Linked DNA regions of Homo sapiens: regions 2, 3, 4, 5, 6 and 7 are each linked to region 1. The links come from fine-mapping of genetic effects on gene expression. A gene starts in region 1. Each other region holds a variant in brackets. All regions are shown on one strand. Distances are between the middles of the regions. Region 1 holds the start of FBXO25 (F-box protein 25). Region 2 overlaps FBXO25 (F-box protein 25). Region 3 overlaps FBXO25 (F-box protein 25). Region 4 overlaps DLGAP2 (DLG associated protein 2). Region 5 overlaps FBXO25 (F-box protein 25). Region 6 has its middle 27 kb from the start of FAM87A. Region 7 has its middle 21 kb from the start of FAM87A.

What was found.
Region 2: its variant is fine-mapped to the expression of FBXO25 in whole blood (TOPMed, PIP above 0.99).
Region 3: its variant is fine-mapped to the expression of FBXO25 in testis (GTEx, PIP above 0.99).
Region 4: its variant is fine-mapped to the expression of FBXO25 in fibroblasts (GTEx, PIP above 0.99).
Region 5: its variant is fine-mapped to the expression of FBXO25 in whole blood (INTERVAL, PIP above 0.99).
Region 6: its variant is fine-mapped to the expression of FBXO25 in whole blood (INTERVAL, PIP above 0.99).
Region 7: its variant is fine-mapped to the expression of FBXO25 in Th2 cells (Schmiedel 2018, PIP 0.95).

The regions. Positions count from the first base shown.
Region 1 is chr8:404,388-408,957 of GRCh38, reverse strand. It overlaps FBXO25 (F-box protein 25), which reads right to left and starts at 2,000. Exons shown (of 10, transcript NM_183420.2): 1 at 1,892-2,000. RefSeq lists a silencer at 1,868-2,277 and an enhancer at 4,379-4,438.
Region 2 is chr8:475,646-480,215 of GRCh38, reverse strand. It overlaps FBXO25 (F-box protein 25), which reads right to left. Exons shown (of 10, transcript NM_183420.2): 10 at 2,249-4,570. Among named protein-coding and RNA genes, the nearest start is that of TDRP, 67 kb to the left of the region's middle. RefSeq lists enhancers at 168-667, 668-1,169. The variant T/A (reference allele first, on the strand shown) is at 2,225.
Region 3 is chr8:429,783-433,782 of GRCh38, reverse strand. FBXO25 (F-box protein 25) reads right to left here. Exons shown (of 10, transcript NM_183420.2): 3 at 2,339-2,442; 4 at 848-897. Among named protein-coding and RNA genes, the nearest start is that of FBXO25, 25 kb to the right of the region's middle. The variant G/C (reference allele first, on the strand shown) is at 2,439.
Region 4 is chr8:1,133,213-1,137,782 of GRCh38, reverse strand. All of the region lies in intron 2 of DLGAP2 (DLG associated protein 2), which reads right to left. Among named protein-coding and RNA genes, the nearest start is that of DLGAP2, 400 kb to the right of the region's middle. RefSeq lists a silencer at 4,480-4,570 and an enhancer at 4,308-4,570. The variant G/A (reference allele first, on the strand shown) is at 2,148.
Region 5 is chr8:467,089-471,658 of GRCh38, reverse strand. It overlaps FBXO25 (F-box protein 25), which reads right to left. Exons shown (of 10, transcript NM_183420.2): 10 at 1-2,944. The coding sequence ends at 2,855. Among named protein-coding and RNA genes, the nearest start is that of FBXO25, 62 kb to the right of the region's middle. The variant C/G (reference allele first, on the strand shown) is at 2,666.
Region 6 is chr8:354,297-358,866 of GRCh38, reverse strand. No RefSeq gene overlaps it. Among named protein-coding and RNA genes, the nearest start is that of FAM87A, 27 kb to the left of the region's middle. The variant A/G (reference allele first, on the strand shown) is at 1,963.
Region 7 is chr8:359,758-364,327 of GRCh38, reverse strand. No RefSeq gene overlaps it. Among named protein-coding and RNA genes, the nearest start is that of FAM87A, 21 kb to the left of the region's middle. The variant G/C (reference allele first, on the strand shown) is at 1,848.

The sequences.
Region 1 (4,570 bases):
TTTGGGAATTTACAAACACAAAAAAACTAGAAATTACTCCTGAAAATTATTAAACTTTTAAGAGCAAGCACTCAAAGGGTGTAGCTTGTATAATTTGCAAATTTTAAGCACATTTTATGCCAACTTATTTCAGACAGCCTACAATGATTAACTATTTAAAATCTTCCCTTAATTTCTATTTCATGTGGTAGGACACGTGGGTGGGATACTTCAGTAGAAAAGGACTTCATGAAGTTCATTTGCTGGTGGAAACTCTTGGCATGAGAGACTCAGAACAAAAAAAAATGTCTTTCCTTCAACAAGCATATTTTTTCTTAACAATAATAATGGCAAACATTTATTAGAGCTTACCATAGGCTACGCATTACTCTAAACAATCTACATATGTTGTCTCATTTAATCCTCACACTGTCCTCCAAGGTAGAAAACATTATTCTTGTTTTACAAGTTTCATTATGTATTTTAAAGATGAAGACACTGAGGCAAAGAGTTCAGTGGAGCTGGGATTCAAAATGATGGAGTCTCACTCCAGGATCCATGCTCCTAACCACTATGTTTATAATAGCAGTTCCTGAAAACCCTATTAAAACAGATGCCATTAAATTATAAGCTTTTTAACTTTTTTTTTTTTTACCGTCTATTACAGATCACTAATATGATTTCAAGTAATGATGAACCTAAATACAAAGGCACTAAAACAAGGAATACAACACAGGAAAGAAAACTCCAATCCATCTTAAAAGACCACATGTGTTTCCCTATTTGTTTTGCTTATAAGTGTGGACAAATTTGATCCAGAAAGGACATTTTAAAAAATGGCAAACTGAGGGCTGAGAGTCAGAAATAAGTTGTACTCTAAGGACTTACAGATAATCACAGATTCCTCATGGGAAAGGTAAACACGTAAAGACGAGGAGAAAACAGAATATGAAAGAGTAAACGTCTTTTCTGATTAGGGCCGGATGGTAAGGATTTGGAGGCAGCAAGAGACAGCTTCATAAGGGAAGAAATGGTTCTCTAGATTCTTTAGTCTTCAAAATGAGTTTGAATAGGCCCAAGGACAGAGGTGGAATCTAATTGAGAAAAAGGTCAAATTGAGCTTACTGTGAGGGGAAGGATGCAAAATTAGTGTCTGCTGCAAGAAAAATAAGCATGGAAAGAAATTAAGGGAGGAGACAGAGACAGAGCCAGAGCCACAGACCAGGAGTAGGGAAAAAAAGGTAAGCAGCAGACGGGGCAGAGTGGCCTGGAGGAATGAGGGGTCACACCTAGCAGGTGCCCACCGGCGAAGAGGCAAGGACCGAGCCCGGAGGGCAAACGCCGGCAGGAGTCGTCCCCGAAACACCTTGCCCAGCGAGGCGGACACAAGCTCGGGCCTGCAAGACGGCCCAGGAGGGTGGGGGCGGGAAGGGGTCGCAGAAGGTGGGCAGGGGAAGCGGCTGAGGACGCGCGGTGCACCTGTGGGCGGCCCCCGTGCCCACCCGACTCGCCCGCAGCTCCCTGAATGAACCCTCCACACCCGCCGGCCGCCCCCAGACCCCACCTGACGCGCCCGCGGCCCATCGTCCCTACCTGACGCGCCCGCGGACCCAGACTTCAGCAGACGCGCACGCGGCAATCCCGTCCCCACCTGACGCGCCCGCGACAACCCCGTCCCCACCTGACGCGCCCGAGGCCCCCGGTCCCCACCTGACCCTCCCACAGGCCCCGTCCCCACCTGACGCGCTCGCGACCCCATGTCTTCCCCTGACGCGCCCGCCGCCCCCGGTCTTCACCTGACTCGCCCGTGGCCCGTCGTCCCCACCTGACGCGCCCGCGAGCCCCAATCTTCACCTAACGCGCCTGCGGCGCCAAGTCTTCACCTGACGCGCCCGCTGCACCCCGCACCTACCTAGCGCGCCTGCGGCCCCCAGTCTTCACCTGACGCGCCCGCGTCCCCCAGTGCCCAACGGGCGCGCCGGCCACCTGGGCCCGCACCTGACGGCGACCAGGCGGTTATTGCCGGAAGTGGGCCGCCGCCTCCCGGCGCGCCTCAGGGAAGCCCCGCCCCTGGCCATGCTGATTGGCCGGCGCGGATCCGCGTGGCAATGTTGCTGCCTGGTCCTGTCGCCCGCAGCGTGCGCCTGCGTAGTAGGCACTGCCCCTCCGTCCGCGCGCGTCCAGAGTGCCGGGCGTGGAGGCGTGGGGGCGTGGGGGCGTGGGGTGGGGCTCGGGTGCGCAGGGACGGGCGCGGTCAGTGCCTGAGATCCCTGCGATCGCTGGGAGATGACGGTGAAGACCTGAGATTTAGGCCTGCGCGGCGGGTGACGACGCCGGTCCGGGTCTTCACGGGAGGACGCTGGCCGGGGCCTTCAGGTGTTCTCGTGGCCTGAGGACGCGCGTCCCTGAGAATGTGCGTGCCCGCGCCGCGCGGGTCCCACAGGAGCCTGGGCAGCCCCGCCGCCGCATTTCCACCCTGCGGCCGTATTTCCACCCGCTGGGCGCCAAGCCCGGGATGACTGCACTCTAGGGCATCACTGCGCGCTCACACTCAGCATTCGGGCACAAGCACGTTCTCTTTATAAACAGTTTCGAATCTTGTCGAATCTTTCTAGAAGGTTGAAATGCCCTGGAGGAGCAGCGTGAATAGTTTTTTCCAATTAGGAAAAAAGAATGTGGGGCGGCTGGAGGGAGAGAGGCAGGCCGAGAAGGCCAGGTGGGTCCAGGAGCCGCAGCCCCCGTGCCTCAGTTTCCGCCTAGAAACATGGAGGTGGCGGTGCACGCTACAGGATTTCCATAAGAACAAATGAGTTAGCGTGTGCAAAACATTTAAAACAGTGTCTGGTGTGTAGCAAGCAAATATGAGTATTAGTCTTTTCCTTGTTAAAATGTGTGCATCTACATGTGGTGCACATTACAGGAAGTGTATAGTATGGATTCATATTTTGGAAAAGTAATTTTAGAAGTTATTTCTGAAGTGCTTATTATAATAGTGTTTCTTGACCACATGCTTTTAAATAATGTGAAGGCAATGAAGTAGGCAATATTGCTTGCACATCCCCAATTTAAACACCTGTCTGTCCCTCCTTCCCTCTCTCCGTTCTTTTCTTCCTTTCCCTCTCTCTTTATTCCTTCCTTCATTCCCTTCAAGGTTGCGGATTATTCTATTATATAAATGTATCAATTTATTAGAATAGTTTCTATGATGTCTATGATAGGTTTTAAATTGTTTGCAATAGTTTGCCATTATAAATAATGCCCAGTAGCGCTGTGGTCTGATTTAACTTGTGAAGGTATATTTCCAAATAAATCGCTATGATTGGATTGTTGTGTAAAGCAAAAAGTGTCTGAGGCAGATCACAACTGATTTAGAGGTTTATTCTGCCAAAATCGTGGACGTGTCTGGGGAAAAAGAAACACAGGTTACAGTAGGATTTTTGGCCTGTACTTTTTTCCAAATATTTAAGGGAAAAGCGCCGGTAGGAGGGGAAAGAGGGGAGAGTAGGCTATGAGGCAAGTGGTCACATTTTTGTGAGGCTCTGATTAGAGTACAGCAAATCTACATTTCACATGTGAAAAGAAAGGTATGGGGGAGGGTTATGCATCTGTCTCATACTCAGTAGATCTACATTTCACATAAGATAAAGTAAGCTTTTGGGAACAAAAAGAAGACTGCGTGTGTGTGTGTGTGTGTGTGTGTGTGTGTGTGTGTGTGTTTTGCCAATATTAACTTTTCCCTTTGGCATAGTAAGTTTGGAGGCCTGAAATTTTATTTTTCTTTCACTGATGTGTCAAGGTTAACTGCATATGGAATACTAGTAGAAATTGCCAAGCCAAGACCCCACCACCACAATGGGGGACATAGTAATATTAAATTTAGCCCAATTGGCTAGCATCCTCACAATTCCTAGTGAAAGAATTCCTGGATGGATGGTAAAGAGGTAAACAAACTGCAGAAACTCACAAAGCAACAAAAGAAGTCCACAGAGTAAGAGCAGGAATTCAGAGAGTAACCACAGAGAGATCCACAGAGTAACAGCAGAACCCACAGTGTAACATCAGAGCCCACAGAGTAACAGCAGGACCCACAGAATAATAGCAGGCACCCACAGAGTAACATCAGAACCCATAGTGTGATAGCAGAGCCCAAAGAGTAACAGCAGAGCCCACAAAGTAACGTCAGAACCCACAGAGTAACAGCAGAGCCCACAGAGTAACGTCAGAACCCACAGAGTAACAGCAGAGCCCACAGAGTAATGTCAAGAGCATATTCATGGTCTTGGGTCTTCTTTGTGTGTCCTTTCTACCAGGACTGGGCTTAGCTCTGTGCTTGTGAAGAGTAACCCACTCAGTGCCCTCGGGAATTTCACCACTGGAGGAGGAGAAAAACCCCAGAGGGGCGGGGAGAAATGCTTTTCAAAACACATGGTGCAGCTGGAGATTGTGGAGCAGTTGCCCGGGCAGAAGGCTCGGCAGGGGGAATTAGTGACCAGTAGGGAGGTGCCTCCCTAACCACAGAGATTTTTTGGCAATCAACTTGTTGAAAAATCATGTTTTAAAATTTTCTTTAAGTCAAACCCTACAGAACCTA
Region 2 (4,570 bases), 71 kb before region 1:
AAAAAAGCACTCAAAAAATATTGAGTCTTGGAAGGAATGCAGCTATGCAGCTGGAGCCACGGAGCATACAGCTGCAACCTCTGCCTTTCTTTCCCTATAAACGACCAAATGCATCAGAGATGAGGCCCCTGAGATCACTGCTCCTCACTTTGTGGAGTGCAGCCATCTGTAATGGGTCATATTGCCATAGCGCACACACTGGTCTGTGGAAAACGGCAAGACTCTGCGATATCTCGGCTCCTGCCTATATGAGTGAAGCCTTAACTTTCCACTGTGGAACGCTGACCCTGTTTGTGTAGAGCCCATCCCCCAGGTGGCCATCCTCAAAATGTGTGCTTGAATGTGCTAGACACTTCCCCGTATTTTCTGAGCCTCTTCATTTAAGGCTGACAGCTGATAAAGTTGCACCAGCTGTCCATCAGGTAGATGAGAGTCCAGGGCAGTGCCCAACTCTGTGTAGACATGGGGGCCCCAGAGAGGTGCCTGTCTGGGTTATGTACAGAAAAACCGGTTTGCTAAAGAAGCTGGTGTTTTGAAATGTGACACTTAAGTTTTTAGAGGGAAAATGTAGTAATTGGGGAGCGACCGCACCTCCGGCTATCCCCACGCATGGCTATCCTTTCAGCCACACGTGTGGCACAGTGTGTGCGCCGTCTGCTGGAAGAGCAGGGTTTGGGGAAGAGGTTAACAGATAAGCAACATGAATGGCGCTGAGCCCGTTGGAGGGGCACGGGCAGTCCTGAGTGAATGTTACATAGGAGAGCCAGGGTTGATGTGGCTGCAGCCTCGTCTGCTCTCACACCAGCAGGTGAGTGTTAAAGGCAGGCCTCCTGCTGGTGGGCTTGTTTTCTCCTGGCATGTGTGCCTTGGGAACATGCTGCTTTCCTTTGTGCCTTTCTCTGATTCAAAGACTGGTTTCATCACCACTGAAGGGCATGTCACCTTTATGAGGTATTCCATTCTCTAAGTTTTGGTTACTGTATCTCCAAGACCTGCTGTTTCATGGCAAATCTCCATCCACTGGGTTTCTGATTATGTTTGAAGCTTATCATCATCATGCTGGCATCTTTGCCTTTTGGTGACCAACTGTTATCTTACCAGTGAGTGGTTTCATCTTTTTCAAGTGTGTCTGACAGTAACAGTGACCGCCCCCCACCCCGGTACTATAAGGCTGTCAGTTCGGGTGGATACTTAAATATTTATGTATTTTTTGAGACAGGGTCTCACACTGTTGCCCAGTCAGGAGTACAGTGGCACAAACACAGCTCACTGCAGCCTCCACCTCTGCCTGCTGAGTAACTGGGACTACACGTGTGCCACCATGCCTGGCTTTTTTCCTTTTTCTTTTTTTTTTTTTTTTTTTTTTTGTAGCGACGAGGTCTTGCTATATTGCCTAGGCTGGTCTTGAACTCCTGGGCTCGCTCAAGCAATCTCTGGCCTCGACCTCCCCAAGTGCTGGGATTACAGGTGTGAGGGACTGCACCTGGCCGCCATTTAAGTATTTAGAAATTAATGTCCCAGCATGGTTTTTCAGAGTTGCAAAGATATTTTCACTTACTTACTGATAAAGGGGTAGAGTTTTAGCTTTTGATAAAGGGGTAGAGTTTTAGCTTTCATAAGAAGTGAGGCTATTGATCCCTTTGACGTTACTTCTGTTTAGAGTTTTAGGAAAATATTTTTAAAAATTTAGATAATTTATTTTCAAGAAAGCTGAACAAATCTGGATGGTGTGGGGGTGATGGGAAATACCATTTGAGTTTTGAGAAGTGATTTTTTTTTTTATTCTTTGGAAACTAGTGTTTACAGAAATCTCTTCTCCCTAGAGACTTTAAAACGTGCTATTAAGACAGAAGGATATGGTAAGAATTTTTATTCTGTAAGAATCTTCAAAGCTCAGCATGAAGATACACATCTTTCCCATGGGAATCCAGGCTAGAGAAATGCAAGAAGGCGGTTCCCTCTAGAGTCTCCTTTCCTGGGAGATGCAGCTCCAGATGGGTGGGTTTCTGGGCAGGAGGGGAGAGGAGGGTGGTGTTTATTCAACTGTTTATTTGGGATCATGTTATGCGTCTTCAAAAAGCGATATAAGAGAAAATATTGGAAAGATATTTCAAAATAAGAATTACCTTGAAGTAATTCCCATAATTAATGGGTAACATTTTTGTGTATGTATTTTGGCTTTTTATTGTAAAAATAATGTATTTTCATTGTAGAAAGTTTTTTT[T/A]AAAAAGTAACGAGTACAAAAAAGTAGTGTTATATAACTTTTAATGGAAAATGTCAAATAGATACAAAAGTATAAATCAGGTTGGCAAGTGAAATACAGGCCAAAATTGGGCCCACCAGCTGTTTTTGCACAGCCCAAATGTTAAGAATGATTTTTACATTTTTAAATAGTGAAAAGATGTAAAAGGGTAATATCTAATGACATAAGAAAAGTATGTGAAATTCAGATTTTATTGTCCAAAAAGTTTGGAACACAGCCACATGCACTGGTGCGTGGCCCCCTGGTGGCGGCTTCATGCCACTACTGCCAAGTGGCAAGAGAGCCCCATGGCTGGAAAAGCCAACAATCTTTACCATCTGCTCCAAGCCCTGCTTCACTCCCCTGTGTGTACCTATCCTTGCAGCCTCAAATTCCCGGCCAATCTTGTTTCATTTATAGTTACTCCCAGCCCCACGGATTCAAAGGAAATCCCAGACATCCTATAATTTCATCTTCATGTTGAAATTTAAAAAGTTTGAAAATTCACCAAGATGTAATATATATGCACCAAACATCAGAGCCCAAAATATATGAAACAAACATTGACAGAATCAAAGGAAGAAATGGATAGTTCTACAGTAAGAGTAGGAGACTGCAGTAGCCCACTTTCAGTAACGGATAGGACAACCAGACAGAAGATCAGTCGCAAGACAGAACTTGAACAGCATCATACCAGCTGGACCTAACAGACACAACAGCAGTACACACGTTTTTCTCAAGTGCAAATGGACCTTTCTCTAGGATAGACAGTATGTTAGATGACTAAACAAGTCAACAAATTTCAAAAGACTGAGGAAATAAAATATCTTTTCTGGCCACAGTGGGATGAAACTAGAAATCAGTAACAGACAAAAAACTGAAAAGTACACAATTATGTGAAAATTAAACAACGCTCTCAACCAGCAGATTAATGGGGAACTCACAAGGGAAATTAGAAAATATCTTGTGGTAAATGAAAAATGTAATATACAAAAAAACAGGTACAGTCAAAGCAGTGGTAGGAGGGAAATTTGTAACTGTAAATACACCTATTAAACAAATTAAGATCTCAAGTCAACCCTAAATTTACATCTGAAAGAACTAGAAAAAGAAGAGCAATCAACCCAAAGCCAGCAGAATGGAGATGATTATAATAATAATAAAGATTAGAGCAGAGACAAAATAGAGAACAGAAAAGCAATAGAGAAAAATAAATGAAACCAAGAGTTTGTTGATAGCTAAGAGTGACTAAGAAAAACAACTAAAAACCAGGAGGAGACATTACAACTGATTTTACAGAAATAAAAAGGATTAAGAGTACTATGAGCAATTACATATCAAAGAATTGGATAACCTAGATGAACTGGACAAATTCTTAGAAACACACAGCCTATCAAGATTGAATCATGAAGAAATGGAAAATCTGAACAGACCTATGCTAGTCAAGAGCATGAAGTAGTAAAGAAAAGCCTCCCAAGAAAGAAAAGCCCAGGGTCATATGGGAATTCTGGCAAACATCTGAAGAATTAAATCAATTCTCCTCAAACTCTTCCAAAAAACTGAAGAGGAAAGGACACTTCCAAATGCATTCTATGAGGCCATCATTATTCTGATACCAAAACCAGACAAAGACACTATAAGAAAAAAACACCACACATCAGTATTCCTGATCAAGATTTTTTTAAATCAATATTCAACAAAATACTGGCCAACAGGATTCAGTGGGACATTGAAAGGATTACACATCATGGCCAAGTAAGATTTACAGCTGGTATGCAAAGATGTTTCAACATGCTCAAGTCAATAAATGTAATGTCTATTACATTAATAGAATGAAGGAAAAAAATGTGATCTCCATTGATGGAGAAAAAGCATTTGAGACAATGTCATGCCCTTTCATGATAAAAACTCAACAATTGGGAATAGAAGGAAACAACCTAAAATAGAGGCCATATGAACATCCCACTGTAAACATCATATTCAATAAGACTGAAAGGACTTTAAGATCAAGAACAACACAGAAATACCCTGTCTCACCACTTCTGTTTAACACAGTACTGGAGTCTTAGAGCAGTTAGGCAAGAAAAAGAAATAAAAGGCATCCAGACTGGAAAGGAAGAAGCAAAATTATCTGTTTGCAGATGACATGATCTTATATGTAGAAAATCCTAGTGTCCATACATATACAAAAAAAAATTTCAGTAACACTGCAGTTTACAAAATCAACACAACAAATCCATGATATTTCTATACAATAACAAGCAATCTCAAAAGGAAATTTAAGAAAATTCCATTATAATAGTAACAAAAAAACTGAAATATTTAGGA
Region 3 (4,000 bases), 25 kb before region 1:
CATCTACAAACATTTCTGGAATATTTAACTTACCCTGAAATAACATACGATAGACAGTAATTCCCTAAATTATTTTCCCCAATTGTTGCAAAATAAAGCAAATGCAGAGTTTCTAGGCCTATAAAAGGAACTCAACTTCCCGGATCCTAGTAAAGAAACAGGAAACAGCTTGAAGCTCTCTCGTTTGTTTTATGGCTCATGAAAAAGCTTTAGCCCAACTTGGCAAAAGAAAGGCAGGGAAAGAGTTCACACAGCTCTGCACAAACCCAACCCAATTACTAATTTCATGTTAGCCACTCTTTATGTGGAATGAGAGGGCTCACAGATGCCCTGCCCTCCAAAACACGCCACAGGGAGGACACATTCCCATCAGCATCAGGGGTTCATGCTAACACAGAGAAAATGCGTATGACTGCAGGAGTCCATGCTTGGTTTAAATAACCCTGCTGTAGACTCAGATATGTACAGGTAGGCAGGAACCACACACTGCACACATATACCACATGCCACCACACACCATACATCCCACACACCAGTATCTGCACAAATACATGCACAATCATACATACACACCATATATACCACACACATACACCATACACACAACACACACAAATGTGTGCACAAATACACAGCCACATACCACATGCACATGCAAGCACACACAATGGAAAATCACTGCCTCAAAAGCTCCTCATATGCTATTATCTGTCAGAATGTGAACCATAGATCTGATATTGCAAAAGAAATGTGTTTTATGCAACTTTATTAATACATTTATTTAATGTGACTCCATATTCAACAGAAACAATACAAGATACTCTCATATTTATAATAGAATACTTACTTCCTTTGTGCTTTCTTTATGGACATAGATCCATTTTTCACGATAAAAACCTAGAATAAAAATTACCTTTGTTTTTAAAATCTGGCAAATCATTTCAAAATGAAGATTTTAAAGGAATTTAAATAATTGGACATGTTAACAAAATTATCTGACTTACTATATTGACAAGAAATGCTTTTACGTGGGTGAATGCAAACAGAATTGCTTTGTTTCTTAAATCAGTTTAAGATATGAACAATGATTTCAGACAGTACCAAGTCCTAGTAACTTAGAAGAAAATTAGTATTATTAATGACTGAAGCCATATGAAGACATAAATGATTATAAAATGCAATTACATTACTACATTCCTATGTACCCTAATAAAAAGTTCTATTCTTCTGTTGCTGTGTATGGTACTCCATAGAAACAAATTTTTCAGATAAATCTTAAAAGTTTCAAGAATCACACTAACTGTATTCTCCATGTGACCCTATCTTCTTCATAAAGTAGTCCCCCCGTATTCACAGTTTCACCTTCTACAGTTTCAATTACCCACAGTCAGGTTTGGTTTGAAAACATTAAGTGGAAAATTCCAGAAATAAACCATTCATAAGTTTTAAATTGTGTGCCATTCTGGGTGGTGTCATGAAATCTCACACCGTCCTGCTCTGTCCTGCCTGGGATGCAAATCCTCCCTTTGTCAAGCGAGTCCTACACTACCCGCCCCTTGGTCACTCAGTAGCCGTCTTGGTTATCGGATCACCTGTTGAGATATCACAGTGCTTGTATTTAAAGAACCCTTACTGTACTTCATAATGGCCCCAAAGTGCAAGAGCAGTGATGGTGGCCATCTTGCTATAACTGTTTCATTTTATTATTCTCGTTAATCTCTTACTGCACCTAATTTATAAATTAAACTTTATTATAAGTGTGTATATACATAAAAAAAACCATAGTATCCATAAGGTTTGGTAGTATCCACAGTTTCAGGCATCCACTGGAGGTCTATCCCCTGAGGTAAGGGAGCCTACTATACATTAACATGTGTCTTGGTAACTCACAGATATGCTGCATGATAGAGCTCTATGCCCTCACATAGATAGGTCCCACCTCCAGCCTTCCCCTGCTGCCATCTAACATCCTAAACTCCAGCTCTGAATGTCTGTCTCCTGCTCTGAATCTTCAGTGACTTCAAAACTCAAGTCAGGACACCTCTCAGTTTGGCCTCACTGCTCAAGACTGAGCTGAATTCATGACCATAATTCAAGCATTCAGATTCATGGGCTGTTTTGTGGGTTTGGCTATCTCTTATTTTGTTTTTGCACATCTTACCCACTGAAACGGTTGAGCTGCAAAAAGTTTGATCACTAAATCTGTAGGCAATGCTGGATACTGGGCTGTTATTTACATATTTGTATCACCTTTTATTTCATAAGATAGCATTGTCAGAGTAATTTAGTATTTCAACGTAATCAACAAGTAAAATAAAATTAATGAGAATGATCTTACTTTGAGTATTTGTGTCATTTCTAAAATGGTCCTTTTTCCTTTTTTTCGATGCATATTCATGCTCTTCATTATTGAATATTTCTCCATCTTCACTATTTAA[G/C]ATACTGAAATAAAGACACATTCTATTAAAATATTTTTTCAGGGAGATCTTCATTTGGCTTTTCTTTTGTAAAAGGATATAAATACTTCAAAGTGACAGACTGTGGGCTTGAAATCACAAGGGTAATGTCTAATACATTTTTGTTTCATTTTGAGAAATAAGATGTATCCTGGTTCTTTGAGAATATTGTACCAGAAAGTGCTGAACATGTTTTAGAATCTCTGAAGGGTCTTGATATACTTATCCAAGGTAGTTTCAAACATCAAAATGCCTTATTAAAACAGAGATTTTTTTAAAAAACAACTATTAAAACTCCAGAAAAAAGATGGTAAGAATATGATGATACCCAATACTGACCAATGACTTGCTGTATACCTTCCCCATGCTGAGTAACCACTCAACATTTCTGTTTACTCCCTATATAAGGGTTTACCTGAAGTTAATTATTACTGCACTGAACATGTTTTTATTAAGCACCAACCAAATACACTGTTAACACATTTAACTGGAACCAGGTGAAGTGACATGTATATTTTTACTATTTAAATACATTTAATTAAAAGCTTTTCTTCTTCGTGAAACAAGAAAATCAAATCATAAGGCAATAACTAAACAATGGGAACACCTTTTACTTTTTAAAAAAACACCTGTAAATAGTAATCCACATCCTCAAAACTAACGCTGTGTAAAATTTTTATTTTCCACACACTGATAACAGATTTTCAGTGTAAAGTGAGGAAGGAAGCTCTGTGGAGACAAGCTGGTTGGTGGAGGCATGTGAGAGTGGTGCTCAAATCCAAGGAACTAAAATTGCTTATTTGCCGGTCATCGTTCTTTGACAAGAAAATTGTACACAAGCCCCTTTCCACTCACCAGTATTCACTTTTATTAAAAAAAAAAAGCTGACTTTGCCAAATGAGTCACTTTCTCACTGTCAGAACAGACTTAAACAGCGGTGCCAACAGTTGTAAATCATCAAGACAAGCAAAGCACATTTGAAAAACATACAAACAACTGAACTTTTTGTGGCAGACATTATAACAGCAATTTATGGAAATGTGTTGATGTTTGTATTTTGTATTTAGTCTTACACCAGTTTGTTATCATTGATTGAAATACTGAATGTAGAAGCTTTAGAATCTATAACGGTTTTTCTAACGAAAATTACAAACATATCAAAGGAAAAGCACAAATACAATGTTCTCCAGAAATACTGTCGCAGAAATAAAGACAGAATATGGAAGGAGACAGGACTGCTGACTAATCTCATACGTACAGGGAGAAGGACACTCCATGCAGCTTAGCTCCAACATGTGAGCATGGGACAGAAAAGCAAGGTGAACCTAAAGATATCCCATGGACACACTGAGCTGGAACCAACTCTGCCCATAGGTGGTGGGGCCAGGTTCAGATGCTTGCAGTAACCGCATCCTCCTGTGAATCTGGGCCTAGATGGCTGTGGCTCCCTGGGGGCTACCCACACTGTGGATTCCACAGGTGGAGGTGACCTTCTTGGGCACTGCTGGGACACTTCCTGGGCCTGCCTGGGCAGTGGTAGGGCT
Region 4 (4,570 bases), 730 kb before region 1:
GGGAACCAGGTTGTAACTGTTTATTTCCAAAAACACATTTTTTTAATGAAAAATATTTGATTAGGGAAGTTTATATAGTAGAAAGAGCAAGGCTGTAAGTTGCAGCCCATGTTCTTATTTCAGATACCAATCGTTATAGAAAGACAGTGACCCGGGCTGTGAATACTAGAAACATTCAAACAGGGAGTTTTACTAATGCATTTTTTTCTGAGTCAAATATAACTTTAGGAATCACCCATCGTAGTCAATTAAACATTTTCGCTCCAATGCATAGAGTAAGAAAATGGTGTGGGCCGGCTTCAGGTGAGGCTCAGACAGCGAGAGGCTCCATGCAGCAATGGGACAGTGTCCTGCAGCCGCACCGATAGCGGGACATCAGCTCGGGGCAGCTTCTGTGGTTTGGTGGGTGCTATGGACTGAATTACGCACACCCCAAATCCATATTTGGTGCACCAGTCCAATAGGACTATAGTTTGGAGACGGCCTAGGAAGAAACAATCCAGGTTAAATGAGGTTTTGAGTGAACCCTAATTCAATAGGACTGGTGTCTTTGTAACAAGGGGAACAGATGCCAGGGCTCTCCCCTACTCATGCACAGAGGGGAGGCCCCGGCACACAGGGAGGAGGCCACAAGGAGGAGGCCACGCTGCAAGCTGGGAAGAGAGGCCTCAGGAGAAACCAACCAGGCTATGGGCCCCTTGTCCTCGACTGCCAGCCTCCAGAACTGCAAGAACATAAGTTCCTGTTGTTTGAGCCATTCTGGGATCATGGCCTGAGCTAGCACAGTGGCTGGGCACCATCTTGAGAGGCAGGATTACAGTTTTTCAGACATACTACACACAAGTTGAAGCAGCACAAACAGAATACCTCCAGCACTCAACAGGTGCTATCAAATGTCTTTGTTCTGAGCATTTACTCTTCACCATTTAAGATCACTACATTTAAAAATGGTCATTCTGGAGAGCAGCCAGGCCTGGTCTTCTAGGCGCACCTGCACCACCAACACGCCCCGTGTGCTCCTGCTCCCTGGCCTCCATGTTTGCCAGCCTCAAGAGCTGGCTTCGGGTGGTTCCTCACTCTCTTCAGGCACGAAGCTGGGGGAATCCACATTCAATTTGAAGAGCATAGAGAAAGACGTTTTTACTGAGCATAGTCATGTGTTCAGAGTCATGGGTCTGCTGTGCACCAGGCACTAGATCTGAGTGCCCTATGTTGTCTACACACCAGGCACCGTACTTGGTGCTAGCCACGTTGTCTGCCGTGGCCCTCACGAAGGAAGCTTTGATTATGCAGAGCCAGCCTGACGATGAGGAGGGCATCCACCCCGGCCTGTATGGGGAGCCAGAGAGCTGTCCAGATCTGCTGCTGCAGGGAAGCTGTGTTCCCACTCCCTTCTCTCCCACGAGCATCTGCTGTGGACAGGCTGCGGGGCATCTGAGTTACAAGCCCACTTCATGGCTGATGGGAGGGGAGTTTTTTTTTACGAGGTTTGAAGTCTATTCGCTGGTAAATGAGAGGGCTGGAAATTGAGGCCAGGTGTGAGGTCAACCCAACTCATGTGCCTAAGGGAGCAGAACCCAGGGGTCTTCAAAGGCAGGTGTCCCGCCCCTTGGGACAGTGCAATACCAGATTCCTCACTACTTCTACCTGGCAGCTTCCCCTGGAAGCAAGAGGAAGGCAAGGGGAATCTCAAATCCCTTGCGTGAATTTTTCATGAGCAGGTTGGGAAAAATATCTTAAGCACAGGAAGAGAATGAGCTTCTTGACTTGAATAAAGTTTGATTTTTGGAGGATCTGGCTCATTGATTCTGTGCTCTGTGGCCAAGAGGTAAACTGTAAAGCAGTTTAAATCTCGTTTCTTAACTTCGAAAAATGATTGCTTGTGATTACACGACGGGCAACCTTCCCTGCGATGATTCCTGCCAATCCCCCGTGCTCAGCAGAGATCTATTGTTTTGTCATCATGAACATCTCCTTCGTGTTTTTCTACCAGAAATATCACCAGCTCATACTGTCCACAAAAGTGGCCATCCTCTGCATCGGTAAGCTTAGGGATCCATGGAGAGGTTTGGCTTTTTTCAAACGAAGGCTTAGCGCCCAACCTGCAGTTCCTGGAAAGCACACTTTCTGACATGCCGCAAGGCAGT[G/A]AGGAAGGGATCACCTTGAGAATGTCGTTCCCCTTAGGTGTGCCACGCTCCGTCTCCTGAAAGACCGCATGCCCCTTTTCAGAGTCTAGCGCTTCTTAAGATATGGACAAAAAAAAAAAAAAAAAAAAAAAACCCACAAAAAAACCCTTCTAGGATCCAAGGTGAGAAATCTCTAAGTAACTATCTCTGCGTGGTTCCTAAAACCATTTCCGCCTCTCCACTGACGCACCCTCAAAGGCTCTTTCCCCTAAGACGAGATGCACTCAGACAGCCGCCTGGGTCCTTAGCTTTGCTTTTGTTTTTATGAAACTGTGTCCTGAAGCTGCTTTTTAATTCTTGAAAATGGATTTGGGGACAAAGGTTTTCCTTAGGCAGCTTGGAAAATACTAACTGACATGTATTTGTTAAAAAGCAAAAACAAAACAAAAAACCCCACAATGTTATATAGGGTAAGTGCCTATACTTGTAATTTTATGTAACCAATAGCAGCAAAAAAACTGTCAAATCCCAGAAAGCTTTACAGGTTAAGGTGTTAGAGTCCTTGGGGAGGGACACCTTTCAGTGACAAGAATGGAGGAAATAGAAAATAAAGAATAGAATCATCTTATCGGAGTCTCTTTAGCACTAAAAATCATATTCAAAGTTTAATCAATAGAGTTTGATATTGATTCTATTGATATCCCCACCCAAATCTCATCTTGTATGGTAACCCCCAAGTGTTTAGGGAGAGACCTGGCGGGAGGGGATTGGATCACGGAGGGAGGTCTCCCCCACACTGTTCCCATGATAGTGAGTTCTCAGGAGATCTGGTTTATATTATAAATGGTGTTTTTTTCTGTGCTCTCACATGCTCTCCCTCGCCTGCCGCCACGTAATATGGGCCTGCTTCTCCTTCCACCATGAATAAGTTTCCTGAGGCCTCCCCAGCCCTGCTGAACTGTGAGTCAGTTAAACCTCTTTCCTTTATAAATTACCCATTCTCAGGCAGTTCTTTATAGCAGTGTGAAAACGAACTTATACAAGTTTATTCAATTTGAAATCATGTTTTAGATTACATTGCTTACATTATTAATATGATTAATGTAAGTTCTATCATTAATTAATGCAAATTCCTGGCTATTACTAAAACTCAAAAAATAACACATGCTTACAAGGTGGCAGAAAAAAAGGAATTGCTTATACACTGTTGGTGGGAGTGTAAATTACTCAACCATTGTGGAAGACAGAGTGGTGATGCCTCAAAGACCTAAAAACAGAACTACCATTGCACCAAGCAATCCCATGACTGGGTATAAACCCAAAGGAATATACATCGTTCTACCACTAAGACACATGCACGTTCATTGCAGCACTATTCACAAGAGCAAAAACATGGAATCAACCTAAATGCCATCAATGGTAGACTGGATTAAGAAAATGTGGTACATGTATACCATGGAATACTATGCAGCCATAAAAAGAACAAGATCATGTCCTTGGCAGGAACACAGATGGAACTGGAGGCCATTATCCTCAGTGAACTAATGGAGAGAAAACAAATGCCACATGTTCTGTCTTATAAGTGGGAGCTAAATGATGAGAACTCATGGATGCATAAAGGGGACCAACATCCACAGGGGCCTGTGGGAGGTGGAGGGGGGAGGAGGGGGAGGAGTAGGAAAAGTAACTAATGGGTACTGGGCTTAATATCTGGATAAGGAAACAATTTGTATCACAAACCCCCATGACACACATTTACCTATGTAACAAACCTGCACTTGTACCACTGAACTTAAAAAAAAAAAGGGTTAATCAATTCCCAATACGGATTTTATGATTGTATAAAACAACTGAGTGATGTTCATTACAAATTAAATACTACTGTGTTATCTGAAATCCAAAAATCAAAGTCTGGTTTTAGATTACTCTTAATTCTATTGCTTACATTCATATGATTAATATTAATATGAATTCCTCACATTTGTGATGCTGGCTAAACTAGAATTTATGCTGTAATAAAATCTGAATAATATTTATTTTGACTTGGTGAGCAAAGTGTTTGTGTCCAGGCCCTTCTTAACTCCAAACCAGCTTTATAATTTGGTCAAAATAGTCACAGTTTCAGAAATCTATTTCTGATAAAGTTGGACTTAATTGTTTTCCAGAAGACATATCTATTACTTATCATTCTAAGTCCCTTCTAAAAGCAAAAAATATATATTTTTATTCATATATATTTCTCATGACTCCTATTAATGATCAATATAATTTTATGATAACTTCCTGGTTTTACAGAAAGATGAATTTATTTTTGATGATTTTCTAATCATAATCTTCTGCAGAGAGGTTGAAATGAACTGGAAACCCCCCACTTTCAGGAGCCTGCAAACCCCCAGGCATGGAAGTAAAGGAAAATTCCAAAGTTCTTTTCAGAAAAATGCCAG
Region 5 (4,570 bases), 63 kb before region 1:
GACACCAGCCCTGAGTGAGCAGCGCAGACTGAGAACAGGTCCGAGAATGACTGGAGATTCTATCTTGAGAGTGTCTGGCATTGCCTTTCACAGGAGCGATGGGCAAGTGAAACTTACTACCTGGCTTTAGGCTCCTGGGGTCCTGAATTATCTACTTCATTGTAATGAAGGCATCAGAATGTAACTTAATCTCACAGGAGTGGCATCCCTACTTTTGGAAGGCCCCCTGATAGAAACTGTATTCAAAAATACCATTCCAAAGTGGAGATCTATGATTTCTCTTCTCATCTCTGTTTGGTGTTGTCCGATCTTCTGTAAATAACTGATCAGTGCCTCAAAATTGTCTTTATTCTGTCCTTATACCCTCCATTAACCTTTCAATCTCTCCCCAGCAATGTAAGCCATCCCTGCTTACCTGCCCAGCTCCCACAGCTTGTCCCTCGAACGCACCTGCAGGAGGCTGTGACCCATGCAGTGGCAATGCGGCTAGCTGTGTCCATGGCCTGTGGAAATATGCCAGCCCAGCAGAACAGCTGGAATCCTACACTATTAATATGGTTATGTTTTCCAAGCAAGTACTGCTCAATTTATACAAGTTAAATGCACATCTGTGATTTGATAGCACAGCTGAGAACTGTTATAACATCTAACAATTAAATGACAGTAACAGTATATGACAAATTAGGGGAAAGAACCACAACTTCAAAAGGATAGTTTCCTTTTAAGAAGAAACTAACATGAAAAAAGACTGACATCCACCCCAAAAAACAGGCAAATACCACATTAAGTAATTTACCAAAAACAAGAAAAGCAAATGGATAATAAATATATGGAAATATTCAAGCTCACAATTTATCATACATCAAATTCTTCACTTATTAAAACAGCACCAACAGAAAAAGAAATACCTGTGCTTCAGGGATAATGGAAACTCAATGTACTTACTCCCTTTCCTAGATTAGAACAATTTCTTTTCTCAGCTGGACGTGGTGGCTCATGCCTGTAATCCCAGCACTTTGGGAAGCTGAGGCAGGTGGATTGCTTGAGCTCAAACTCCTGAGACCAGCCTGGGCAACATGGTGAAACCCCATCTCTACTAAAAATACAAAAAAACAGCTGAGCATGGTGGTATATGCCTGTGGTCCTGACTGCTTGGGAGGCTGAGGTGGGAGGATCACTGGAGGGTGAGGTGGGAGGATCACTTGAGCCTGGGGGACAGAGGTTGCAGTAAGCCGACATCATACCCCTGCACTCCAGCCTGGGTGACAGAGCAAGACCCTGTCTCAAAAACAAACTCCAAAAAAATTTTTTTTCATGAACAATCTAGAAATATATTTAAAAGCCTTAAAATATGTTTGACTCATGATGTTGGCTGTACTACCAGTGGTTGTAAGGAGACGGCCACATTGTTGTGTGACGATGCTTATCATAGTTATTGATGCTAACGGCGAGACACTCAGGAACCCCAATATGTTGTGATGAAAAAGCCTGTTCCATCTGGGTGATTCTGTGGAGCTAATAAAAGCCAAGTTTCCAAATAACATTTAGGATATGGTTCTACGTTTCTAAAAAAAGGCAGGGTCGGGACGGGGGGCGTTGTGAAGTAACAGTGGTATACGGGACATTTATGGTCTTATGAAAAACTAACATATATTCGCAGAGGCCCCAGGTATTTGCATCGCCTCAGGAGAAACTATAATTTGACAAATAAATGCATTCTTGGCCATTTGTGTCAGTTCACAGAAGTGGGGCTGAAAAATCCAGAATCTTTTTTTAGTCCTATTTATAACGCCATAAAAGTATACTTTTATTATTATGCTTAAAGGAAAAAGTAGAAATGATTTGCTTGGGCTCCTTGACCCTATTCAAAAATGGAAATATACAACAATACGTTTCTATCCTATGCCTGCTGAGGGGATTTTTCATACTCTTTTCAGCATGCACAATAATCTTTGGGTGGTGGGACTGATTTTCTAATTTTCTAAAATGGACATGCGTTATTTTAAAAACGAAGCAATCTTTTAAGGATTTAAGTATCAAAATCACTAACATTTCTCAGTAGGATGCAAAACTGATGAAGTTTAAATCAATAGATAAACATGATTTATTACTTTGTCTATTAAAGTAGTTTCAACACAATTGAAGTTTAGACTGCACTGGGCTGTTCCCATCACAGTCCAGGATTATGCACAGACCAGCCCCCAACCCCAGCAGGGGTGCCCTGCCAGAACCTGTGCTGGATGCCTAGGAGCACAGAGACCACTGCCCGTTGTTGGGCTGCGTGTGCACACTTCATACCCCGATCCATAATCCCTAAGACAAGAATGGCTGTCATTGCCCTGGGTTCACTTTCTATTCAAAGAGGACTCATTTGGGCACAGCCAATGTAGTAGTTAAAATGCATTTTGAGAAAAAATAAATATTCTGTACAATGTATTTACAAGGATCAAATGTTTTGTAACCCACCCCCAATTAGTTTCCCAATTGGGAAACTATAATTTGATAATTAAGAAGCATATTATTGGCCGTTAGTGTCACGTCAACAAAGAATGTGGAGCTGACCACCTAAAGTATTTTTGAACTATATATATAGAGAGAGAGAGTACGCAAAATTTCACATTTTAATATGCTTAGAAGGAGTTTTTAAAGAAGTAGAAATGATTTC[C/G]TTGGCCTCTGACTTTCAGTGATGAAAATGCAACCATGCAGTCCCCCCTTTGCAGAAGGGCAGTTCTTCCCAGGCTTTCTGGAAGCAGGGGCTTCCGAGGAGTCTCCACCCACCTCACAGAACACTCACTATGAGCCCTGCACAGACAGCAGGATTCACAATCTCCAATAGGGATGGCAGGGGCAGCCCTTAAAACTTGAAGAGGTCGATGAAGTGCTGCGGAGACACAGGCGTGAAGCAGCTGTCAGGGTCGGCCGCCGTGCAGGGGTGTCCTGAGTCCTGTGGGGAGGTGGGAGATGGTTAGGAGGGGGCCCCACCACCAGCCACACTCTAGTGATGGTGCTTGAGGGGTCGTCAGCTGCTTGTTGATGTGGACCCTGGGCCCCACCTCAGAGGTACATGGGAGATAACTTGGATGAGAATGACCAACACAAGGGCAGCCGCAGCCGATTCTACATAGAGGTTTCCCATGGAACTCCTGCTCAGGTAGGGCAGGAGACGGTGGCCCCAGGTCTGCCCTCCAGTGCCGAATCTGGTACTGAGTCAGAGGAGCCAGCTGCTGACACCACCCTGCACTGCCCCGGAATCTACAAGGCCACAGAAGAAACCACTGGGGACTTTCTGTCCTCTGGTCCCAGCCATTCCTTTGTCCTGTCCTCCTGTTCCTGGCTCACTTTGTTACACAGGGTTCCCTCCACCCGCCATTCATCCCTGAATCAGCTTGGGCTCCCTGCATAGGACAGGAGAGGGGGACACACGGCCTCAGCCCCCAAGGCTCCTGCTTGCTCCAAGGGAGCTGGCCATGCTCACATACCTAAGGATCCAGAATTATATTTAATATGAGAAGTGACGACAGAAAAATTAATTTTGTGGATGAAGACTGGCAGACTCTTAGGAGGAACGCAGGTAAACGGGACCAGAGGCTCTGGGGTCAGTGCTGGATCTCTCCATGGCATGCCCTGGCAGTGCTGCCAAACCAGGTGCTGTGTGGTGAAGTGTTTATGCGCACATCTAGCAGCCTCCCTCAGCACTCAGGTGTTGTTCTGCAAAATATTTCATCAACACTCTCGTCCTTGCTGAGGTGTTTGATCAAAGTGGCCACTCAGCCCTGCTCAGGGTCCTGAGAAAGCTCAAGTCAGCGAGAGCTGGAATCGAGCCGGGCAGTGGCCAAGATGACGTGCATGAGATGCAGCACGATGCAACGTTTTCATCCCGAACACAGGATGTGTGGCAAGACAGGGAAGTACCTTGAATAGTAAAGCAAGATGGTAGTCCTTCGAGATCATGAAGAAAGAATCAGGAAGGAATGCAGTGAAGGGAGGGAAAAAAAGGAAAAGTTAAGATTAGAAAGAGCCAGAGTGTATCTAAGCATTCAGGTTTGATTCATATTATTTACGAAAATAACTAAAAACATCAGGTAACTAAATTTGGACAGTACAAGGTTATTAAAAGCAAACAAGTTCTCATCAGATAACCCAAAAATTCCCAAACTACTTGAAGACAGTCTTAAGACAACATATCTCTACCTTTAAGTCTTTCAAATTTGGCAACTAATGAGGCTGCAGTGCTAAATAACCTTTAAAATTATTCACTGAAGAAGAGATGCTATTTCCATGTGCAGTTTATATTAAAACTTTATAACAGATTTTTTTGGGGAAAGTTCTTTGTTCTTCATTTAACATCCGAAGGCTCTGCTCTGTGCTCAGTAATGCACATTAAGTCAATTCCACACATGCCCTTAAGCCAGCCTCCACCTCTGACACTTGTTCCTCCAGGCCAGTGAATGCCACTTTCCAACACAGACCCAAGCCTCAGCAGCTGCCCTCCTGTGCTGTTCTCCCCCGCTGGTTCAGGATGCTACTAGCAAAGCGGTTCCCCTGCAAGACCAGGACCACCAGACCATGG
Region 6 (4,570 bases), 50 kb after region 1:
ACATCAACTTAAGTATTGGTGGTAAAAATTGAAGGTATAGTTCTTTGTAAAACTAAGATAAATGAGGATTGAAAGAAAGAGAACATCATATATGTGCTATGTGCTCTGACAATGTGACGAACTACAATGATAAAAAGTGGGGGATGGGCCAGGCGCAGTGGCTCACACCTGTAATCCCAGCACTTTGGGAAGCTGAGGCGGGTGGATCAGCTGAGGCCCAGGAGTTCAAGACCAGCCTGGGCAACACGGTGAAACCCCGTCTCTACTAAAAACACAAAAAATTAGCCGGGCGTGGTGGCGGGGCGCCTGTAGTCCCAGCTACTCAGAAGGCTGAGGCAGGAGAATGGCGTGAACCCGGGAGGCGGAGCTTGCAGTGAGGAGAGATCGCGCCACTGCACTCCAGTCTGGGCGACTGAGCAAGACTCTGTCTGCAAAAAAAAAAAAAAAAAAAAAAAAAAAAAAAAAAAAAAATTGAAAGAAAAAACATCCACAAGGGAACAATTACCTTGGGAGTCAGTGGTCACCTTCCAGAGAGAAGGAGGGTGTTGAGGCTGGGATGGGACTGTGGAGGGGCGGCCGGTGTCACTGCCAGTGTTATCCTTACAGGAAATCATTAAACTTTTGGGTGTTATTTTGTACCTGTGATTTATTCAAAATTAAAGAGTTTTAAAAACCTAAAAGATAGTTGAATTCAAGGGAAGATCAGTGCTGCAATAGATCAGCATTCGACCAGATGGAAGATAGGACATTTGGAATTAATGTTGGAGCCTACAACCCTGCAGCTGAGTTCATTTGGACTAATGACTCTGTTCCTCTTTCTCTGTTAGGACTTGAAACACATTTTCCTTGAAGTTTCCTTTTGCCTTTAAAATCGAGTGTGTCATCCTCTTTGGGTCGGCGCTGGCTGGGATGCAGCTGCTGTGGGCCTTAGCAGGAAGGAATGGATGTTGGCCCAGGCTTGAGCCAAAAGCTAGCATCTGTGGGGTGGGATGGGAGGGGCTGTGGTGACTTGCAGCAGAGAGCAACCGCGGAGCAAAGTCAGACCAGGGTCAAGCCAGATCAGCAAGGAGAAGAAAGGCGGCAAGCCGACTTCCTGGGGGCAAACCTCCCTCCTCTCCCCACCTGCACACACTGTCAGAGGTCTTTAAAGCCAGAATGCTTTCAAGAACTTTACCTTCTATTGTTTTTTGATTTTTTGCTTATGGTCATTCTTGCAGGAGTAAGGTGGTATCGCACTATGGTTTTGATTTGCATTTCCCTGATCATTAGTAATGTTGAGCATTTTTTCCTATGTTTGTTGGCCATTTGTGTATCTTTTGAGAACTATCAATTCATGTCCTTAGCCTACTTTTTGATGGGATTGTTTGCTTTTTTCTTGCTAATTTGTTTGAGTTTGTTGTAGATTCTGGATAGTAGATGTTGGCACGGATGCAGTAAAAAGGGAACACTTCTACACTGGTGGTGGGAATGTAAACTAGTACAACCACTATGGAAAACAGTGTGAAGATCCCTTAAAGAACCAAAAGTAGAACTACGGTTTGACCCAGCAATCCCACTCCTGAGCATCTACCCAGAGGAAAGAAGCCATTTGAAAAAGATGCTTGCACACACATTTACAGCAGCACAATTCGCAATTGCAAAAATATGAAACCAACCCAAATGCCCATCAATCAATGAGTGGATAATAAAGAAACTGTGGTATATATAGACCATTGAATACTAATCAGCCAAAAAAAGGAACAAAATAATGGCATTCATAGCAACCTGGATGGAGGTAGAGACCATTATTTTAAGTGAAGTAACTCAGGAATGGAAAACCAAACATCTTATGTTCTCACTCATAAGTGGGAGCTAAGCTATGAGTCTGCAAAGCCTTAAGAATAACACAATGGACTTTGAGGACTCAGGGGGAAAGGGTGGGAGGGGGAGTGAGGGATAAAAGACCTACTGATTGGGTTCAGT[A/G]TATGTTGCTCGGGTGATGGGTACACCAGAATCTCATTAACCACCACTAAAGAACTTAATCATGCAACCGAATACCACCTGTTCCCCGAAAACCTATGGAAATAAAAAAAATTTTAAAAAGAAGTTTGCTTTCAAATAGCTTACAATTTATGTATCGTGCTGGTCAAACAGAGCGACTTGACGTGTGCATTGTAATCAGCATCTCCCCGGGTCCGGCTTCTTTCACTGTGACTGAATGGCCTCCCTCCTTCTCGGTGTTGACAGGCGGAGTGGCCTTTGCCTGAGAGGGATGCTTGTTTGTGGATTTGTGGGCTCAGGCTGCTTTCTGATGCTTCCAATGCCTTCTAAAGGTTGCCTCAAGGAATTAACATGTTTTTGACAATTGTTCTTCAGGAGACCTCCAGTCATCTGACAGAAGCAAACAATGCAAAGATTCACTGGGAAAGTTGTTGCCATAAGAGAACTGGCTGATCTGCAGATGGACCCAGGTAGCCTCTGTGCCTCTAGCTGTGAGCAAATCCCACCTCACCGTTGTGAAATATGAAGTGATTCACCTGCTTTCAGTGCATTCACACTCTGCTTAATTACACTGTTGTTCTCGCAGTTGGAAAGCACATGGATACCTCATTTCAGTTATTTAATGAGATTGGAAGTCAGCTTTTCTCCCCAGCCCCCATCCCTGGCCAACCACCCACACTCCACAGTGACTGAGGTGCAGGCCTTGTATAACGTGTGTATTAAAAGCACGATTTTTAATGGTACTCAGTCTCAAACACGTTGGCAAGGGATTTGGCAGCAACTGTGAATAATTTGCAGAAGGTTTCTCCTGGAACACTCACTTTTATTAATTTGCCAACTTCCCTAATTTAAACAGTGACTCATGTTTCATATAAATTTCTTCCTAGGACATAATTATTCTGACATTGAATACTCTGTGTATGGGACGTGATCTGGACTTGAAAATAGCATTTTTTTTCAAAAAGTCAACCTTTGTTTCACCAAAAGTATAAAAGCTACTGCAAGTAGATTTATTCAAACAAATAGAAAGCAAATGAGATGGCATTCCCTCCTGTGAATGCATTACAGCCTGTGCTCATTGGAAACAGGGAGAGAAAGCTGGGCGCTAGGTTTTTGAGTAGGAAAGTCTCTAGTTCTTTATTTTCAGGGCTATAAATACCTTAACTCCAGGTTTGACTGACTAACGTGGTCGGTTGCTGGAGAAAGGCTCTGAAAAGAATCATCTGCATCCCAGCGTGGTGGCTCACACCTGTAATCCCAGCATTGTGTGTGTGTGTGTGTGTGTGTATATATATATATAAATTAGTTGGGCATAGTGGTGTGCACCTGTGGTCCCAGCTACTCGGGAGGCTGAGGTGGGAGGATTGCTTAGTAGTAAGCTATGATCTGTACCACTGCACTCCAGCCTGGACTGCAGAGTGAGATTCTGTCTCAAAGAAAAAAAAATAACTTGCTTAGTTTCATATGTGCAAATAGAAACCTATGGAAACATCTCATTTACCTTCCAACAATATGTGTTTACTTTCAGCAAGAGAATGAACATGTTTTACCTACTCTTGAAACACTCTGAGAATAAGTCCAACCTGGTTCACTAATTAAAATATTAACAGCATAGCAGCCAAAAACTAGTCAAATGAGGCATCTGGAGGGTGGCATTTTGACCAACTCTACCAGGGAAGTGATATTGAGAACTCTAATTCCAATTTAAAAAAAAAAAAAAGAATTCTGTCTTTTGTGGTATGGATTCCAGGACAATGTCGAGCAGTATTTTCCAAACCTGATAACTCTGAAAGTTGTCAGAATCAAAATGGAATCACTTTTATTAAAAGCAAAAACAAAAACAAAACCAAAAAAACCCTGGCAACTGGAGCAGGGAAGGCCACGGAGAGTGCATCCTGAGGCTTGTTCACCCAACAACAAAAACTGTCACAGGAGACTGCAAACCCACGCTTGCTCATAGGACATCACAACCTTACACAAAAAATACTTCCTTGAGGACATCTGCCCAGCAGGCCTGTCCAACCTCGGACTGACGTCACCCTTGTTATTGATCCTAGGATCCAGAGCCAAGGATAATTCTCTCAAAACAATGACATAATCCTCATTTTTTTTTCTCTAAAAACCTTTCTCTTTGTTTGCCTGCCTGAATCCTCACATAGTTTACCATGGCGCACATATTCCCATTGAAATCCCCTATTCCCCAGTACATGCCTTTGTTTTGTTTTGTTTTGTTTTGTTTTAAGACAGACTCTCTCTTTTTGATGTTTAGGTTGGCATGATGCAGCATAGTCACCTGAGGAGCTTATTAAACTAGAGTCCTGTGCTCCGCCTGGACTAGCGGAGCCACTGGCGGGAGAGCTGGTGATGGGGATGGCCTGGGTGGTGGTGAGGTCTGGCGGTAGAGTCCCTTGTGTGTGCATGTTTCAAGACATTCTCAGATTGTGATTGTGCGGCTGTTCCTACCCTAGCAGAGGACTTGTGTTTGGTCACTGTTCACTGTTTAGATAGTCTCTCAATGAGAAATTTCTATAAGTTGGACTATATTTTTTTAAAGAATAACATTAGATCTGTTAACAGTCAAACACGATTT
Region 7 (4,570 bases), 45 kb after region 1:
CTGAGTCAGGGCCTGGTGTTGATGTAGACGATCATGAGGCAGGTCAAGAGTGGCTGCCGTGGACGGGGCAGGAGAATCCACAGTGTGACTTCACGGCCTTGCTGTTTTCTCTGGAGACATACACATGACTTGGGTGTTTGCCTTCATGTGTTTTGGGGGACTGAATTCCTGTAAGATGGCGGAGCAGGGCCAGGAGGTGCAAGTGCCCTGCGTGACCTGGACCGTGCTTGACCTGGACCTTGAGTTACCTGGACCGTGCGTGACCTGGACCGTGGGTGACCTGGACCGTGCGTGACCTGGACCGTGGGTGACCTGGACCGTGTGTGACCTGGACCGTGGGTGACCTGGACCGTGGGTGACCTGGACCGTGCGTGACCTGGACCGTGGGTGACCTGGACCGTGTGTGACCTGGACCGTGGGTGACCTGGACCGTGGGTGACACTCGTTTTTGACTTGGCGACTTTCTCCCTGGCAGTTCTAGATTTGGGTCAGTGAATCCTAACTACACAAATATTTCAATTAAAAACAGCATCATGGTGACAGATAACTATAGATTTAGTCAGTCTAACCGCATATGGGGCATGACATGAAGAGTTAGAGTTGAGAAATTTCAACGAAGAATTCTAAGCTTCCCCATGGAGTATTGTTCATGGCTTTTAATGTACGTTTAAACTCAGTCACCCAAGGATTCGGGGATTAAGTGCATCTTTATACGTATAGCAGTTTATAGCTGCAGGATCAGCTTAATATGTTCATTTTGTGCTTTGGGAGGCAATCAATCCTCTGAATTGATTTTTGAAGTTGATCACAAGAATCTTTGATTCAAAAAGATTTTATTTTTTGACGCTATTGAATTTGGCAAATTCTGCCACACTTCCTTATTTTAACATTTCTGTCTTTGAATAGAAATGGTGATTTTATTACTTGTACTAATCTTAATTCTTTTTTATTCTTCTATGAGAACCTTCAGTTTAAATATGACATCGTCACTAGTTCACTTTCAGTATTCTACTAGCTCTTCATGTGTCACTCATAGACTCTATTCCTCTTTTCATTGCATTGTTCATGTGATAATTCCATGGCCTGAAAGGGTTAAATGTCTCCTGAAAGTATTCCACTGAAGCTGTGGGGTGTGCAGGAGGAGCTGTTAAGCGTGCCTGCCAACCCTGAGAAATAGCTCCTTGCCAGTGTTCAGGACACTGGACAACAGGTCTGGCCTCTGCCCTACTTTTGCCTGAAATTAGAAGAGGAGCTTTACCTCCCTGGTAGTTTTTTCCTCTCATCTACAGAAGAAGAGACTTGAAACACAGTGTAGATGCTTTCCAAGGTTCTTTCTGACTCTAGGTTTCTACCGTACTTCACAGCAAAGGCTGACATTGATGTGGAAAGTCACAACTTTGAGATTTTCATGACTGTATTTTCCTTCCACATTTCTTTTAGCAAATGGTAGAATGTTGACAGGAAGTCCATTAACAAAGTCAGGAAAAAACTCACCAAGTCTTAGCAGAAATTGTAACCTGGATTCATTCTCATTCTCCTAATAAGATGGTACCAGTGAGTGATAGTGTCGAGTAATAAATGAGAATGACTAAATAGGAGGCAGTACCAGCTGTCCAAGGTAGCACAAATTGGGTAGTTTGAGGCATGTGCTTGGAATGCAGGAACGACACCTGCCTTAGGAGGTGATGAGGTGGGTGGCAGCATGAACACTGTTACCATGATGTATGGATGGCGAGAAACAACACGCTCTCAGCACCTGAGTCAGGAACTGTTACCATTGCATGAGATGGTTGCACCCAGCCCACCCATGATAATCCTCACAGCCATCTCTGATGCAGGAGGAACTG[G/C]AGGTCATGATGCCGTCAGCACTTGTGCTTTAAATGGTGACTCTGTAAGGGTGAGTTACGAGGGGTCAGGTTACCTCTGAAAATCAGGTTTGGCAAAAACTCACTATGTCACAAGAGACTTTTTAGATGCTCAGGGAAGGCAATGGGCCTCTTCTCTTCCTCTTAATGTAGATCAGCTTGGAGCTGTGGTACACTGTGCTGGCCTATGTGCGTTGTGGGACAATGGTATAGGGTAGTAGCTGACGTCCACTTGCCCCATTGGCACAGGGTTCTTTCCCAGTTTGTGAAAAAAACTTTTAAAGCTGTTCAAATTAAGTGGATTTGATTTAAGATAAGCAGAATAAAAATTCTATGATCTTTTAAAGTTTTCAAACCTGCAGGATTCTTGGAAGCTGGGAGAGACAGTGCATTTTTGAATCTCAACTAGGTAGCAAAACCCAAAACATCATTAATAAAACTAAGTGACTAAAGACCCTAAACTATATTCGGATGAGGTTAAACCAAAATCCTTCAGAACGCATGATGTTGGTCTCTGTGTAAGAGGAAGCAGAGGCTCACATGGAGCACGGGGAAGCATCCACGATCCCAGATGTGCAGCCATTGCCACAGGGAAGCATCGACAATCCCAGATGTGCAGACATTGCCACTGGGAAGCATCGACAATCCCAGATGTGCAGACATTGCCACGGGGAAGCATCGACAATCCCAGATGTGCAGACATTGCCACGGGGAAGCATCCACAATCCCAGATGTGCAGACATTGCCACGGGGAAGCATCCACAATCCCAGATGTGCAGACATTGCCACGGGGAAGCATCCACGACCCCAGATGTGCAGACATTGCCACGGGGAAGCATCCATGACCCCAGAAGTGCAGACATTGCCACGGGGAAGCATCCATGACCCCAGATGTGCAGACATCACCATGGGAAGCATCCACGACCCCAGATGTGCAGACATTGCCATGGGGAAGCACCCATGACCCCAGATGTGCAGACATTGCCACGGGGAAGCATCCATGACCCCAGATGTGCAGACATCACCATGGGAAGCATCCACGATCCCAGATGTGCAGACATTGCCACGGGGAAGCATCCACAATCCCAGATGTGCAGACATTGCCACGGGGAAGCATCCACAATCCCAGATGTGCAGACATTGCCACGGGGAAGCATCTACAACCCCAGATGTGCAGACATTGCCGTGGGGAAGCATCCATGACCCCAGATGTGCAGACATTGTCACGGGGAAGCATCCATGACCCTAGATGTGCAGACATCACCATGGGATGCATCCACAATCCCAGATGTGCAGACATCACCATGGGAAGCATCCATGACCCCAGATGTGCAGGAGTCGCCATGGGGAAGCACGGCAGGTCAACCCGAGTGCTGTGACTGACACATGTGGGGTTTACTCATCCAGTAGTTGATGAGTCAAAAAGGACTGAGGGACTGGGGCCTCTGACTCCTGGGAACTCTTAATTCTGATAAGCCAGGCTCCTTTCTATGAATGAAAAAAAATTATTGGGAGTAGGCTGGGCACAGTGGTTCACGCCTTTAATCTCAGAACTTTGTGAGGCTGAGGTGGATGGATCAGTTGAGGTCAGTTCAAGACCAGCCTAACCAACATGGCAAAACCTTGTCTCTACTAAAAATACAAAAATTAGCCAGGCATAGTGGCATGTGCCTGTAATCCCAGCTACCCAGGAGGCTGAGGCAGGAGAATAACTCGAACCTGGGGGGAGGAGGCTGCAGTGAGCCAAGATTGTGCAACTGTCCTCCAGCCTGGGCAACAGAGTGAGACCCTGTCTCAAAAAAAAAAAAAAAAAAAAAAAAAAAAAAAAAATATATATATATATATATATATATATATATATATATATATGAGGTTTTATATATATATATATATATGAGGTTTTATATATATATATGAGGTTTTATATATATATATGAGGTTATATATATATGAGGTTATATATATATGAGGTTATATATATATATGAGGTTATATATATATATATTTTTTGAGACATATATATATGAGGTAAAACAAAAAAATGAAGGGCAGGGACAATGAAGACCAAGTGAAGAGAAGGTCTAGATAAAAGTGGAGGAAGGGAATAGAGTGAAGAAATCTCAGAAATCAAACTTCCATATTTTTTTTTTTTTTTTTTGAGTCGGAGTTTCGCTCTGTCGCCCAGGCTGGAGTGCAGTGGCGCGATCTCGACTCACTGCAAGCTCCACCTCCCGGGTTCACGCCATTCTCCTGCCTCAGCCTCCTGTGTAGCTGGGACTACAGGCACGCGCCACCATGCCCGGCTAATTTTTGTATTTTTAGTAGAGACGGGGTTTCACCGTGTTAGCCAGGATGGTCTCGATCTCCTGACCTCGTGATCCGCCCGTCTCGGCCTCCCAAAGTGCTGGGATTACAGGCGTGAGCCACCGCGCCCGGCCAAACTTCCATATTTTTTAACATCACATAAAAACAACCAAAGAGGGACTTCATAAAGTTTTAAACATCTACATTGAATCCCACTTTTTCTAAAACTTCAGGATATCCAATTTTACATAAAAATTAACATTAGAAAAGTATTGAAGGTAAATCCCGCACAAAATTAATATAAGAAAATAGAGAGTAGAGAACAGAATGAAATGCCTACAGATAATGAAAGTGCCCCACAAGAAGTTCCCACACAGCAGGGCAAAACTGCAACCTCTCAG